Linked DNA regions of Homo sapiens: region 2 is linked to region 1. Evidence: fine-mapped expression QTL. Tissue or cell type: whole blood. Region 1 holds a variant in brackets; the other region holds the start of a gene. All regions are shown on one strand. Distances are between the middles of the regions.

What was found. PIP is the estimated chance that this variant, and not a neighbour inherited with it, causes the effect.
Region 2: CCNDBP1 starts here. The variant in region 1 is fine-mapped to the expression of CCNDBP1 in whole blood (TOPMed, PIP above 0.99).

The regions. Positions count from the first base shown.
Region 1 is chr15:44,004,067-44,012,330 of GRCh38, reverse strand. The region is part of intron 1 of FRMD5 (FERM domain containing 5); the gene reads left to right. Among named protein-coding and RNA genes, the nearest start is that of WDR76, 180 kb to the right of the region's middle. The variant T/C (reference allele first, on the strand shown) is at 3,605.
Region 2 is chr15:43,181,766-43,189,765 of GRCh38, reverse strand. It overlaps CCNDBP1 (cyclin D1 binding protein 1), which reads right to left and starts at 4,363. Exons shown (of 11, transcript NM_012142.5): 1 at 4,159-4,363; 2 at 3,887-3,946; 3 at 3,533-3,612; 4 at 486-567. The coding sequence starts at 4,267. It overlaps TMEM62 (transmembrane protein 62), which reads right to left. Exons shown (of 14, transcript NM_024956.4): 14 at 4,622-5,506. The coding sequence ends at 5,180. LOC124903478 (a long non-coding RNA gene) reads left to right here and starts at 3,879. Exons shown (of 2, transcript XR_007064604.1): 1 at 3,879-3,997. RefSeq lists an enhancer at 3,758-3,857 and silencers at 4,028-4,117, 4,338-4,637.

The DNA of each region.
Region 1 (8,264 bases):
AGTGTTTAGAAAAGTTTAGAGTCTCTGTGATAGTCAGGAAGACTTTGGAAGTGTCATTTATTCAGTGGTGCACTTACAGTCAGCCCTCTCTATCCGCAGTCCATTTCACTTGTCTTTGGGATATCTTTGCTTGAGAAACAAAATGTGAACAAGCAGTCACCCTTTTAGGAATCTAGGATTTCTTAGGGAGATTTATTAAGTCAATATTTGTCAGTATCTGCTGAATCCTTAAAATGAAGGTCTTTAGAAATTTGCACATAGCAGTGAAAGTGAACAGATGGTGAGTTCAGGAAGGAAAAAGAAGAGTCAAGCAGTAAAGACAGATGGACACCAACAAATATGAATTGAATAGCCCATTTGTTCCCTCTTTAGCTGTTGCACTTGAAACCTCTGATTTCTGATCCCACCAAAAGTCTAGTGAAAAATGCTCCTCGATGTCTCGCTGGCATTTTTCTCAAGCCCCATCCTTTTTGACCTCTGGGTAGCATTTTCTGTTGTGACCTCCTACACCCTCTTGAGCCTCTTTCTTGCTTTGTGACAGTCTGCTGATTCTCAGATTACTGCTCTGATGATTCCTTCTTTGATGGCGTCATCAGGGTCTTTTTCTTATCCTAAATGCAAGTATTCCCTAAGGTTCTGCCCTTTACCCTTCTCTTTCCTCCTCCTTTGCTATCTCCCTTGATGATCTCATCCACTTTCATGGCATCAGCTCATTTGTATGCATAATAGTCTCACATCTATAGCTTCAGCAATCCAGACCTCTCCTCAGGGCTTCAGTCGCACATTTCCAACAGCCTGTCAGGTGGCTTCACTAACACTTCATTGTGTCCAGAACCACACATCATCTGTCCGACCTTCTTCTATTTCTCTCCTGGGCACCTGTTCTTGAATGACATCAGCATTCTCCAAGTCACCTTTGACTCTTCCCTCTTAGTGATCCCCACAACAGTTAGTTGCCTGGACCTGTTGATTTATATCCTAAACATCTGTTGGCTCTGTCTCTCAATTCCCATTGCTACAAACTTCACTACTACCGTATTAATTTCTCCAGAGAGCAGTTCTTATCGTCTTCAGTTCTCTACTTAAAACTTTTAAGGATGTAAAGTATTAGGAAGGAAGAAAGGGAGGGAGAGAGGAAGAAAAGAAGGAAGGGAAATTAAAAGAAAAAGAAAAGAAGCCTACTTAGCTGGGCATCCAAGGCCCTAACCTTCTTTCCTTCTTTCCTTAATCCACCAAGCAGAAGCAACAAGACCCCACTGCCACTAGCCAAATGTTCTGTCTCTTCTAAATTATCTGTACCTCTTTTCCACCTGCATTCCAGTTATTAGTGTTCATATTTTATCTCTAGTATTAGAGATCATGGACTCTTCTCATCTTGTTCACCCTAGTTCTCTCATCGTGCCCAGTGCTATGCTTTACACATAGTAGGTACCCACTGAAGCATTTTTTTTTTAACGTTGAGTAATGAAGTTTGAACAACTTCTGCCCACAGTTAGGGCTCTTTTGCCCAGCATAAAAGCTATATGGAAGAGTTCCCTGTTGTATTCATGTTTGTTTAACTTCCTTTCTGTTTTCTGTGCTTCAAGTAATCCATTCCATTGTCAAGAATATCATTTGTAGGTCTGGTTTAGAGAAGAGGTTCTTGAGGCCAGGCATGGTAGCTCACGCCTATAATCCCAGCACTTTGGGAGGCCAAGGCAGCTGGATCACTTGAGGTCAGGAGTTTGATACCAGCCTGGCCAACATGGTGAAACCCTGTCTCTACTAAAAATACAAAAATTAGCCAGTTATTAATTAGCCAGCTACTCAGGAGGCCGAAGCAGGAAAATGGCTTGAACTCAGGAGATGGAGGTTGCAGTGAGCTGAGATCGTGCCACTGCACTCCAGCTTGGGTGATAGAGCAAGACTCTGTCTAAAAAAAAAAAAAAAAGAAAAGGAAAAAAGATTGAGAAGAGATTCTTGGAAGGCTTCATCTCTGAGGTTAGTCATCACTGTAATCCTAGAGAGCTTCTGGTAACTGATTGTTTCTGGGTAATTCACTGTATTCCATAACCACTTGGGTTTTCTGCTGTGTGTAAAGTGGAGACAGAAGGCAACTTGCTTTCCTCTTGAGTATTTCTGGTAATTCATTGCCAAGCCATCCATGGCAGAAAGTTCCCTCAGCAGAATAGATGCAGCCATTCCAGAGATGGAATCTGTCCTCAACAATAGCCTGATCAATCTTAGTGGATAATTCCCTTATAAATAGAAATGATTCTTTATGGCCAGCATAATGCAGAAATTGGATAATAAAAATGTTTAAACCCCTTTGAAGGTCAGGGTATGATGTTAGGGAAGAGTAGCCTCTGTGCTCTGTCTAATATACTCAGGTTCCAAAAAGATGCAGTAGAGATCCACAGTGTTTACTCCTGGGCAGAATTCTTATTTGAATTTCTGTCTCCATTCTTACTTTTATAAGCTGAGTTGGACAGCCAAACAGGGAACTTTAAGGGTAATAAATATTACCTTTTCCCCTTAAGCCTGGGACCTGGAGCAAGCTCTTAGCAGCCTGTTCTCTGGGCCTTTCCTCTTAGTACCTAGAAGTACACAGCACCCCAAAGCCCCCAGGAAACCTATGCCTCAAAAAAACTCCATAAAAGTGGATTTTTTTTTCAAACACAGTCTCACTCTGTCACTTAGGCTAGAGTGCAGTGGCACAATCACGGCTCACCGCAGCCTCGACTTCCCAGGCTCAAGCAATTCTCCCACCTCAGCCAGCTGAGTAGCTGGGACTACAGGTGTGTGCCACCATGCCTAGCTAATTTTTTGTATTTTGTAGAGGCAGAGTCTCTCCATGTTGCCCATGCTGGTCTCACACTCCTGGGATCAAGCAATCATCCTGCCTCAGCCTCCCAAAGTGCTGGGATTAGAGGCATGAGCCACTGCACCCAGCCACATGTTACTTTAAAAATGTACAGAAAGACAAATGTCTTTTGCATCTTTAAGATTTCTTTTTCACTCCTACAAAGGTTCCCCCCAGCCATGTTTAGTGATAACTGCATTGAGCAAGTCTTATTACCTCTCTGACTCATTATCAGTCATATGAGCTACTGTGACCCAACCCTTAGAAAGCTGGGCAAAGAAGAGATAGTGTGAGCTGAGGCAATAAATTAGTGATTTGTTCATCCATTCTTTATTCATTTCCTTATTTTTATTTGTTCAACATTTATTATTTACTACTTGGTAGGAACTAAGATAAGATGATGGGACAGACATGGTTCCTGTCGTCGGGAAGCTAATTTTTTGTTATTGTTGTTTTTTGTTTTTGAGACGGAGTCTCCTCTGTCACCCAGGCTGGAGTGCAGTGGTGCAATCTCGGCTCACTGCAAGCTCCGCCTCCCGGGTTCATGCCATTCTCCTGCCTCAGCCTCCCCAGTAGCTGGGACTACAGGCGCCTGCCACCACACCTGGCATATTTTTCGGATTTTTAGTAGAGACAGGGTTTCACCGTGTTAGCCAGGATGGTGTCGATCTTCTGACCTGGTGATCTGCCTGCCTCAGCCTCCCAAAGTGCTGGGATTACAGGTGTGAGCCACTGCGCCTGGCCTGGGAAGCTAATTTTTAA[T/C]GGAGGAACTCTACAAGTTTAATGCTGTGATTCTTAACTTATTTTAGGTCAGAGAATCCTTTGAAAATCTGATGCAAGTATTAGCTTCCACAATGAAAATACATTTACACAAAATTTTACATACAAAAATCTTTGGTGCACCACATGTTAAAAAAGCCTGTGGCCGGGCGCGGTGGTTCATGCCTGTAATCCCAGCACTTTGAGATGCTGAGGCAGGCAGATCACTTGAGGTCAGGAGTTCAAGACCAGCCTGGCCATCATGAGGAAACCACATCTCTACTAAAAATACAAAAAAAATAGCCAGGTGTGATGGCTCACAACTATAGTCCCAGCTACTTGGGAGGCTGAGGCACAAGAATCTCTTGAACCCAGGAGGCAGAGATTGCAGTGAGCTGAGATGGTGCCACTATACTCCAGCCTGGGCAACAGAGCAAGACTCTGTCTCAAAAAAATAATAAAATAAAGCCTTCTACATGAAATAAAGGCTTCTAGAAATAAAGCCTTACAGGCTCATGCCTGTAATCCCAGCACTTCAGAAAAATGAGGCAGGAGTGTCACCTGAGTCCAGGAGTTTGAGACCAGCCTGGGCAACATAGGGAGACCTCATCTCTACAAAAAAAAAAAAAAAAAAAAAAAATTGCCGATTGTCCCCACCTACTCAGTAGGCTGAAGTGAGAGAATCACTAGAGCCCAGGATGTTAAGGCTGCAGTGAGCCATGATCATCCCACTGCACTCTAGCCACAACAACAGAGCAAGACCCCATCTCTTTAAAAAAAATTAGCAGCCAGGCGCAGTGGCTCACGCCTGTGATCCCAGTACTTTGGGAGGCCAAGGCGGGTGGATCACCTGAGGTCGGGAATTCCAGACCAGCCTGACCAACATGGAGAAACCCCGTCTCTACTGAAAATACAAAATTAGCCGGGGTGGTGGCACATGCCTATAATCCCAGCTACTTGGGAGGCTGAGGCAGGAGAATCACTTGAACCCGGGAGATGGAGGTTGCGGTGAGCCAAGATCACGCCATTGCACTCCAGCCTGGGCAACAAGAGCGAAACTCTGTCTCAAAAAAAAAAAAAAAAAAAAAAAAATTAGTTAATTAATTAAAAAAATTAGATTTTAAAAATTCAAAAAATTAAAAGATAAAAATATCTGGCCTTGTAGATACTAGGAAAATGCAAAGTATGTTAGGATGTTAATGTCCATTTTGATCAGCAGACAGAGAACTTGAGGGATTAAAAACATTGTTCTCAAAACAGTCAAGTTTGTCAAATGTGTACATTAACTCCAAATGAAATTCTAGGCCCTCACAGTATCATTAAAAGCAGAGGTTTATATATATGTAGGCATACCTTGGAGATATTGCAGAATCAGTTCCAGACCACCGCAATAAAGTGGATAGTGCAATAAAGCAAGTCACAGATTTTTTGGTTTCCCAGTGCATATAAAAGTTATGTTTCACTATACTGTAGTCTGTCAAGTGTGTAATAGCATTATGGCTGGAAAAAAACATTTATATATTTTAATTTAAAAATGCTTTGTTGCTAAAAAAAAAAATGGTAACAATTACCTGAGCCTTCAGCAAGTTAAAATCTTTTGGCTGGTGGAAGGTCCTGCCTTGATGTTGACAGCTGCTGACTGGTCAGGGTGGTGGCTGCTGAAGGTGGCTGTGACAATTTCTTATAATAAGATAAGATAACCATGAAGTTTGGCACATCAGTGGACTCTTCCTTTTATGAAAGATTTCTCTGTAGCATGCAATGCTGTTTAACTGCATTTTACCCACAGTAGAACTTCTTTCAAAATTGGAGTCAATCTTCTCCAATCCTGCCACTGCTTTATCAACTAAGTTTATGGGATATTCTAAATCCTTTGTTGTCATTTCAACAATGTTCACAGCATCTTCACCAGGAGTAGTTTCCATCTCAAGAAACCACTTTCTCTGCTCATCCATAAGATCTTGAGATTGCGGCAATTCAGTCACATCTTCAGGTTCAACTTCTAATTCTAGTTTTCTTGCTATCTCTACCACATCTGCAGTTACTTCCTCCACTGACAGCTTGAAATCAAGGGTTGGAATCAACTTTTTCCAAACTCCTGTTAATGTTGATAATTTGACTTCTCCCCATGAGCCACAGATGTTCTTAATGGCATCTAGAATGATGGCATTCAGTTCTTCAATTTACTTTGCCTAGATCCATCAGAGGAATCACTATTCATGCAGCTATAGTCTTATGAAATGTATTTCTTAAAATAACACTTGAAAGTGCAAATTACTCCTTGATCCATGGGCTACCAACTGGATGTTAGCAAGCATGAAAACAACATTAATCTCCTGTACATCTCCATCAGATCTCTTTGGTAATCAGGTAGAGTGTCAGTGAGCAGTAATATTTTGAAAGGATTTTTTTTTCTTTTTGAGCAGCAGGTCTCAACAATGAACTGAAAATATTCTGTAAACCATGCTGTAAACAGATGTACTGTCACCCATGCTTTGTTGTTTCATTTATAGAGCACAGGCACAATATATTTAGCATAATTCTTAAAGATCCTGGGATTTTTAGAATGGTAAATGAGCATTGGGCCTCAGTTTAAAGTCACCAGCTGCATTATCCTTTAATCTGAGTCAGCCTGTCCTTTGAAGCTTTGAAGCCAGACGTTGACTTTACTCCATCTATGAAAGTCCTAGATGGCATCTTCTTCCAGTGGAAGGCTGTTTAATCTACATTGAAAATCTGTTGTAGCCACCTTCATAAGTGATCTCAGGTAGATCTTCTGGGTAACTTGCTGCAGCTTCTGTATCAGCACTTACTACTTCATCTTGCACTTTTATGTTATGGAGATGGTGATATGGTTTGAATGTGTGTCCCTGCCCAGATCTCATGTTGAAAGATAATCCCCAGTGCTGGAGGTAGGGCCTGGTGGGAAGTGATTGGATCTGGTGGGGGTGGCTTCTCATGAATGGTTTAGCATCATCCCCCTAGTGCTGTTCTTGGGATAAGAGTTATCATGAGATCTGGTTGTTTAAAAGTGTGTAGCACCTTCCCCTCACTCTTTTCCTCGTGCTCCGGCCATGTGAGATGCCTTGCTTCCCCTTTGCCTTCCACCATGATTGTAAGTTTCCTGAGGCCTCCCAAGAAATAGAAGCCGCTGTATTTCCTTTATAGCCTGCAGAACTGAGTCAATTAAACCTCTTTTCTTTGTAAATTACCCACTCTCAGATATTTCTTTTTTCTTTTTTTTTTTTTTTTTTTTTTGAGATGGAGTTTCACTCTTTTTGCCCAGGCTGGAGTGCAATGGCGTGATCTCGGCTCACTGCAGCCTCCACCTACCGGGTTCAAGTGATTCTCCTGCCTCAGCATCCCGAGTAGCTGGGATTACAGGCACATGCCACCATGCCCGGCTGATTTTGTAGAGACGGGGTTTCACCATGTTGGCCAGGCTGGTCTCGAACTCCTGACTTCAGATGATCTGCCTGCCTTGGCCTCGCAAAGTGCTGGATTACAGGCATGAGCCACCACACCCAGCCTCAGGTATTTCTTTATAGCAGTATGAGAGTGGACTTAATACAGATGGCTTCTTTCCTTAAACCTCATGAACCAACCTCTGCCAGCTTCAAACTTGTCTTGTGCAGCTTTCTTATCTCTCTCAGCCTTCACAGAATTGAGAGGTAAGGCCTTGCTCTGGATTTGGCTTTGATTAAAGGGAATGCTGTGTCTTGTGTGATCTTCTATCCAGACCACTAAAACTTTCTGCATATCAGCCTGAAGACTGTTTTACTTTCCTGTTATTCATGTGATCACTGGAGTAGCACTTTAAATTTCCTTCAAGAACTCTTCCTTTGCATTTACAAATTTGGCTATTTGGCTCAAGAAGCCTAGCTTTCAGTCTATCTCAGCTTTCAACCTGCTTTTCTCACTAAGCATAATCATTTTTAGCTTTTGATTTAAAGTTAAAGACATGTGACTTTTCCTCTTACTTGAACACTTACAGGCCATTGAAAGGTTATTAATTGGCTAATTTCAATATTGTTGTGTCTCAGGGTATAGGGAGGCCCAAAGAGAGGGACTGAGTTGGGGGAACAGCTGGTTGATGGAGCTGTGAGGACACATAAAACATTTGTTAAGTTTGCCATCTTCTATGGGCATGGCTTATGGTGCCCCAAAGCAAGTATAGTAGTAACATTAAGGATCACAGATCACTGTAAGAAAAAATAATATTAATGGAAAACTTTGAAATATTGCAAGATTTAACAAAGTGTGACACAGAGACATGAAGTGTGCATGTGCTATTGGAAAAATGGTGCTAGTAGACTTGCTGGATGCCAGGTTGCCACAAACCTTCAATTTATTAAAACAAAAACAAAAACAAAAACATAGTATCTGTGAGTCACAATAAAGTGAAGCACAATAAAATGAGGTATGCTTGTACTGATATGTACACACATAGGTATACATACATGTTAAATAAAAACTATGGCATTTTCTCTGGAAGTTTGATTTAACATTCATTTGAAGTACCTTGGCTCACTGGTGTGGGTGTGTTACTAAATTTCTTGTAAGGACACATTCCTCTTGGAGAGAATGCTGGTTTGAAAAATAAATATGAGAGCTATTGGTCCAAATTGCTATTATAGATTAAAAATCAAATTGTTTTACAGAA
Region 2 (8,000 bases), 820 kb after region 1:
AGTTTAAGCCACTTGAGTAACCCTGAAGATCCATGACATGTATTCAGTTATAATTTTGGCATGATTATAATCAATGCATGATTCTACAGGCAGGGCTGGAGGCCATTTAACCTATGCAGATGTTCAGAAATAGGGTGAGATATAACATGGGTGGAGGAAAGTAAGGATGGCCTGAGCCTGCATATGGGGCTGAGAGCCAGCCAGTATCTGTGGTGTTAAAACGGGTTGAAGAGGGAGAAGGCTGTGAGAATTAAAAGCCTTATGAGTCAGGCAAGGCAGGGGAGATGGGAAGTCATAGGAACAAAGCATCTGTATCTTAGAATAATGGCTTGTTTATATAAGTCACTTACATTACAAAATTATCCTTCACTGTATTTTATGGGAGAAAGTTACATGTTCAAGTTGGGTAAAGGTAAAAGTCACAAGACATAATCCACAATATTAGCAAAGATCTACACGATAAATGCAACACTTATGTGGCTTACCCTGATCCTTTGGAAGCAAATAGTACACTGCAATAAATGCCTTGATGGCAGCATGGACTTGTTCACAGAACTTCTGGGTTTCCTATGAAAAAGGAAACAGATTAGATCAAAGTGGTCAACCCTTCTGCTGTGGAATAGAGCAGATATTTCTTTTCTTTTTCTTTTCTTTCTTTTTCTTTTTTTTTTTTTTTTTTTTTTTTTTTGAGACAGAGTCTCACTCTGTCACCCAGGCTGGAGTGCAATGGCGCAATCTTGGCTCACTGCAACCTCCACCTCCCAGGTTCAAGCAGTTCTCCTGCCTCAGCCTCCCAAGTAGCTGGGATTACAGGCACCCGCCACCACACCCAGCTAATTTTTTGTATTTTTAGTAGAGATGGGGTTTTGCCACACTGGCCACACTGGTCTCGAACTCCTGACCTCAGGTGATCCACCTCCCTTGGCCTCCCAAAGTGCTGAGATTACAGGTGTAAGCCACTGCACCCGGCCTAGGGCAGATATTTCTACAGCATCATCAAACATTTTCTGAAGTCCTGGTATGAAGGCAGGCCTACTATACTCATCACATACCAGGGAGGAGTTAGCTATATAGTAGATATTGGGCTGACAACTCAATAAACCATTAAGAAACAGCAGGAAAAAACTTATTCCTGATACTCTGTATCCCAAGATATTCATGATATCTTAGACCAGGAGCTGGCAAACTGTGGTCCTCAGGCCAAGTCAGGCCCCACTGCCTGTTTTTGGAAATGAAGTGTATTGGGACACAGCCATACTCACTGGTTTTAATGTCTGTAGTTGTGTTTGCTCTATAAGGGCAGAGTTGGGTAGTTGGTTACAAAATCTAAAATATTTACTAACTGGCCCTTTACAGAAAAGAGAGGGAGGGAGAGAGACAGACAGACCAACTGACAGACCATGGTTATTAAACCATTAACCAGGTCTCTCTCTTTTTTTAACAGAATCAGAATATGTAACTAAAGGTAACTAGCATGGACTCGACAATGCTCCATGTTAACTATTTTCCTTCTAGGTGGTCACTGGCTTTCTCATCTTCCTTGTCCTCAATTTTCTGTTAAATTCTAAGTCAATACTATACAAATGTGGTCCAGGTTGGAGCCAGTCTACAAACTGTTTGTGACCAGTCAGGGATGAGATAAGCAGTGACTGAGAGTGTTTAGAAACTTTTATGGCAATTTGACATTTATTCAACATCCGAGCACATAATTTTATTAAAGTATCATTCCATACAGATTGGAATTTAAAAAACAACAACAACAACAAAAAAAAACCAACAACCACCCATCTTTTAGTAGGACTAAAGTGGTGAGATCTCAAGAAGGCAATGATGATTCATGTGTATGTATGTGTGTATATACACACATATATACATATATGTATTTATTTGAATATATGTATATACTTGAATATTTGTATATATTTCAAATAAATCCAAATTCTAACTTTTCATCTATGAGTGAAACTACTGTCCTGAGCATGTATAGAAAATCAGTTCTATGCTGCCTCCTTGTGGTATCTTACTTGCAGTGAGTTTTAGCAGCAAGTCCTAAGTGCATTTGAAAGAAAGGGGTTAGCAGATAAGAAAAATAAGGTAATATTAACTACTCTTTTTGAAATAAGTATTTTCCATGAATCTTTTGAAGTGCTCTCATACAATTCATCTCTTGTTTCCTCATCACAAATCTCAAAGGTAGGCCAGGCACGGTGGCTCACACCTGTAATCCCAACACTGTGGGAGGCCAAGGCAGGCGGATCACTTGAGGTCAGGAGTTCGAGACTAGCCTGCCCAACATGGTGAAACCCCGTCTCAACTAAAAATACAAAAATTAGCCAGGCGTGGTGACAGGTGCCTGTAATCCCAGCTACTCGAGAGGCTGAGGCAGGAGAACTGCTTGAACCCGGTAGGCAGAGGATGCAGTGAGCCCAGACTGTGCCACTGCACTCCAGCCTGAGTGACAGAGAGAGACTCTGTCTCAAAAAAAAAAAAAAAATCTCAAAGGTATGTAGGAGGAGAGAGTTTATCACTGTAGGTACATGCAGCAGAAGATATTTATATCCTTTCCAAACACCTATATATGTAGACTGAAAAATTAAAACAATTGACTATGAAAATCAAATAAGGCAATGAATATGCCATTTTAAAAGAATCTTACTCCTATATTAAGCATACACAACTCTAGAAAAACTGAGCATAGAGCATACGTGGTCATAGCCAACATGTTTACTTTCATTAGTTTTATAATAAAGGAATATTTAAAATGCATAAATCTTTGTTCTAGCAATTCTACTTCCGGGAATTTTTTCTACCAATATACACACATACACAGAATTAGGTAATTCATCACGACACTGTTTGCAGTAATTCTAAGTTGGAAGGTCCAGAACAGTGTTTATGTATCATTTGTGTAAAAAGAAGCTGACACATACAGATAAATGTATATGAATGTATATATGCACAGAATATACGTGGAATAATGCAAAAGGAACTGGGGGAGACAAAAATGAGAAAGTGGGTGGAAAGGTAAACTTAACACACTTTGATATCTGTTGAATTTTGTACTATCTACATATGTTACTGATTAAATATAAAAAATAATATAAAAAGGGTATTATGCAGTATAACAGAATAGGTAGCTTAGACATCAGATAGACCTTGATTTAAATTCTAGCCCCCCTGCTTTTTTTTAAATCTTAAGCTGAGCTTCTGAGCCTCCTTGCTCATCTGTCAGATGGCCATCAAGTATGTGAAAACACCCAGCAAATAAAAAGTGCTTAAAAAATTATCAGAAGGGAAACAACCAGGATAAACTTCAGACTGAACCAATATTTATAAGACCTGCCTACTCCGCGCCAGGAACTGCACTTGGCAATTCGGTCTTCACAACAATCCTGTGAAGTAAAAACGGTAACCTCACTGGACAGATGAAGAAAAGAAATCTCCTGGCGTGCGTGCAAAAGGTGGAAAGAAAATTAGAGGATTCCTAAGGTGTAACTCGGCAGCCCAAGGATTCCACGAAAGTGAAGCCCACCTGTGGAGACGGCAGTGGAAGCTGAGAGAAGACTATGGTCAGAGTCGTGGCTTCCCTTGACACAGTCACAGCTGCCTCATCTGGGGGGTGGCCGAAGAGGAGGCAGGTGCCAATACGTTAGTGCTGCACGGACTTGGAAGACTTCCCTTACCGACCGAGACTTCTCAAAAACACTTCCCGAATGTCGAGGTTAGAATTCTATTTCACCCTCTCAGGTGCTGAGGTGGGTAAGGTACCTCACAGAAAGGATGCAGCGGGGGAGAGCAGTCCCCTCCGTGGGGGACAGCGGGAGGAAAAGGGGTCGGGACGCTGGAGGAACTGAGGCAAGGGGAGCCCGGAAGGAGGCGCACTCACTGAGTCTTCTCCAGAACATCTCTCGATTAAACTCCTCGGTGGTCTCCTGGGCTTCGCCGACTTGTGGGTGTGGCGTGTGGGGGCCGAACGGTGGCGAATGGAAAAGCTGAGGTAAGCGGAGCCACCTCCCTCGCCCAAGCCCGGCTCCCCGCCGCCGCCCCAGCCCGCCCTCTCCGCGACCCCGAGCCCGGCCTCTCCCCGACCCCGAGCCCGGCCTCTCCCCGACCCCGAGCCCGCCCCTGCCGTCGCCCGTTCTAACTCCGTCAGCTCACCCCGCACTCGAGGCAGGAGCAACCGCAGCTCCTCCGCCAAGTGCCGGAGCTGCTCCAAAGGCGAAGCCAGGGTGGGGACTGCGGCTGCAGGTGCAGTTGCGCTCGCCATCTCAGTCGCTTGCCGAAGGCCGCAAACACAGGCCTCCGCTGCCACTGCCGGAGCCGCACTGCGACAGCCGCTCCACTTCCGGGCCACAGCGTCAAGGGCTCGTTTCCGTCAACAAGCCGTCCAGCCCCGTCCCAGAGGCCCTGCCCTGCCTCCTCCCGCCACGAGGCCCGGCCCCGCCCGAGGTCCAGCACCACCCATCCCGTTATCAGAGACCAGGCCTGGCCCCGCCTCCTCCCGCCCCGCCCTGTCCCCTGAGGTACAGCACCAACCATCCCACTCTCAGAGGCCAGGACAGGCCACGCCTTCTCTTGCCCCTTAGGCCAGGCTACACAAGCAAGCCTCAGGCTCACCGTCTTTCTTATTCATCATTCATTCATTTATTTGATTAGTTGAAAACACTTCCGACTAAGGAAGCAGAGAGCCCACAATCCTGTGGGAAAACAGGCCTGGGAACTAATATCTCAGGGGTAGTGAGGGTCGGGCCCAGATCCTCAAAGGTTCCCTGCCCCTGAAATTGCACCTTTGACAGCTGCTGAATTCCAAGCACAGCGGTAAGTGCTTTACATGGGGTAACCCTAAAAAACACACTGGGCCTCAGACACTCCCGTACACACACCCAACCTCTACCCTGTGGATGTCCTAGATAAGGGTTTTCTCTTCACAAAGGTAAATCAACTCTTTGCCTCCTTAGGGAGGGAAGGAATAAAGGCATTATTTTTGAGACTTTTCTGCAGTCCATTCTGCAGGTATCAGTAGTGGGTAATCCCTCCAACGTCCAGGACTCCAAACGAGCAGCTGCTCCCTAAAGCTCACCCACCAATCCTGGCCCTCCACCTGCTACTGGGGTAGAGGCCTGGGCTACAGACACAGAGGCTGGGCTTCTGCCCAGCTGCCAGTGGTGAGACATGGCCTTCAGGAGCTCAGGTGGCTTTTTAACTGCACCATGAAGATTCCAAACTTGGTGGAGTTCAGTGTCCACACATAACGAATGAGAACAGGTGTCAGCAGTGTCAACCAGGTCCGCAAAGGGGAGAATAAAAAAGCTAGGGTGCCGTATGTTGCATAAAGAAAGTAGCAGGAATAAACCTGCCAGATGTACAGCAGTAGCATAAGTAGGTGAACAGGCATAATTTTCAAGTATTTTCTTTGATGGAGATGAGACCTGAAGTTGTGACCAAAGCACCGCTGCAGCAAGCTCCAACACATGTAAGCCATCAAGGGGATGTTAAAAAACGCCAGCTGGAAAAGAACAGAACCATAGCTTACTCCCAAGTCCTTGGAAGAGTTTGGTCTTAATAATGCATTATTAGTGGATCCTAAGACTATGCTGCTATCTGTCTTGGCGTTAGCTAATTTACTTCAAGCACAGTTGCTTATAACACAACAGCTGACTTGTGGCTAGTTGTGTATTTGCCCATGTCCTTTTATTCATCTTAGAGGCAGGTATCATTTAATTTATGCTGAAGTCCCAACTTGTAGTACAGTATCATATACACAGTTAATACCCAATGGTGTTAAGCTGGAATTGAACTGAGTAAATGTATACACACACATACAACAACCCCTCTTTTTTGGTGGAGTGAGGGGAGGACTTGGCTATCAGTATTTTTTTTCTTACCTCCATTTTTGTTTGAGGTAGCATGATAAGTACTGGAATATAAATTAGAGTATCTAAATTATAATCCAAGTTGAGCTGCTGTATGATTCATTCATTTAACAAATATTTATTGAGCACCCATTATGTAGCAGGCATGAGCTAGGCTCCAAGTTGGGGACACAATGGCAAACAAGTTAGAAAAGGTCCGTCATAGAGCTTACATTCTAACAGGGAGAAGACAGACAAAAAAAAAAACCAAAAAATATAATTACAGATCGTGATTAGTTCAATGAAGGAAAGAACTGGGTCATGAGAAGGTAACTGGGAGAAAGGCTCTCAGAGGCCAGAAGGACAAGAATGAATCAGCGGAGGGAAGTGCATTCTAGGCAGAAGGAACAAATGAAAAGCCCAGAGGTGGGAGAGGTCTTGGCCTCTTTAAGGAAGTGCATGCAGAGCATGAGCCAGGTGGAAATTGGGGCAGTCGGCAGGACCCAGATCACTGCTCTGCTTCAAAGCATTTCAAGCTGAAAAGTAAGTGAGCTGATTGTAAAGTTTTTAAAAGAGCACACTGGATGCTCTGTATTAAGCTGAGAGTAAGGAGGCAAGAATATCAGGGAGAAGACCCAGGCAAGAAATAATTACAACTTAGATTAGGAAAACAGAAATGGAGAGAAGTGGATGGATTCAAGATATGCATTGGAAGCAGATCAAATAAGGTAGAGCTTGCTGGTGAAATAGATACAGGGTATGAAGGAAAGGGAATAATTGAGGATACATCTTGGAGAAATCAGGTGAATGGTGGAGTCATTTATTAAAACTGGAAAAACAGAGAGGAACAGGTTTGGGGTGGAAATAATGTTCCTATCAGAGAGACATCACATGAAGTTGAGATGCCTGTTAGACATCTGTGGCCATTGGATATAGAGGCACTTGAAGTGCAGAGAAGAGGTCTAGATCAGAGATATAGATTTGGGATTCATGGGTCTGGATGATACATAAAATCCATTATTAGTGTACTATTTATTAGAATATGAATGTAAACATTTACAAAGGAAAAAACCCTGCCTTTTGGTAAGGCTCAGGATTCATTTGGTATGAGAGAGCTCCTTAGAGACAGCCTCCATCAACATAATAGAAAACTGCAATGAGGCTGGGTGCAGTGGCTCACGCCTGTAATCCCAGCACTTTGGGAGGCCGAGACGGGCGGATCACCTGAGGTCAGGAGTTCGAGACCATCCTGGCCAACACAGTGAAACCCTGTCTCTACTAAAAATACAAAAATTAGCCGGGCATGGTGGCAGGCACCTGTAACCCCAGCTACATGGGAGGCTGAGGCAGGAGAATCACTTGAATTAGGGAGGCAGAGGTTGCAGTGAGCCGAGACGATGCCATTGCACTCCAGCCTGGACGACAAGATCGAGACTCCATCTCAAAAAAAAAAAAAAAAAGAAAAGAAAAGAAAAGAAAACTGAAATGAACCCAGGACCTACTCATGTATATAATGCTGCTATGCAGAGAATATTCTGGACTTGGGTCAGTGTTTGCTAGGCAGAAGTCTTTCCTACTTGGCTGTCTCTAATCCTGTTGGATCATGTTCTACTGCCCTGTTAGAAGGCCATGAACTTATTTTGAATGTTTTTGGATCTCTTCCAAAACTTCAAATTTTGGTCCACTAACTCCATTAGGTGAGTAAAATAAAGAAACTGTTAGATAAATACTTTTCAAATCTGTTTATGTAGTTTTTCTATGGATCAAGGTTCTTTGTGTGTTTATTTTAAAGGAATCAAATGTAAACCTAATACATCAGTTTGTTTCCTAAACAAGTACATTGCTAGGAAAGCCCAGGTCTGGTTTTTGAATAATGCAGTTTCCACTGAATAACTGACCCATTTTTTTAATGTGTCTATTTTTTAGTTTCCTCCCTCTAAAATATTTTCCTTCTTCATCATCATAATCAGTTTTGGTTTACTCAGAAATCTAAAACTTTTTCTACCATAATCCCTTGTTTCATTTTTTTGTCAATGAAAAAGCACAGTGAAACAAAAACAACAAAAACTTCTTTCACCTCTTATAAACACTTCATGACAAAAATGTATTTTAGGCTAGGCATGGTGGCTCACGCCTATAATCCTAGCA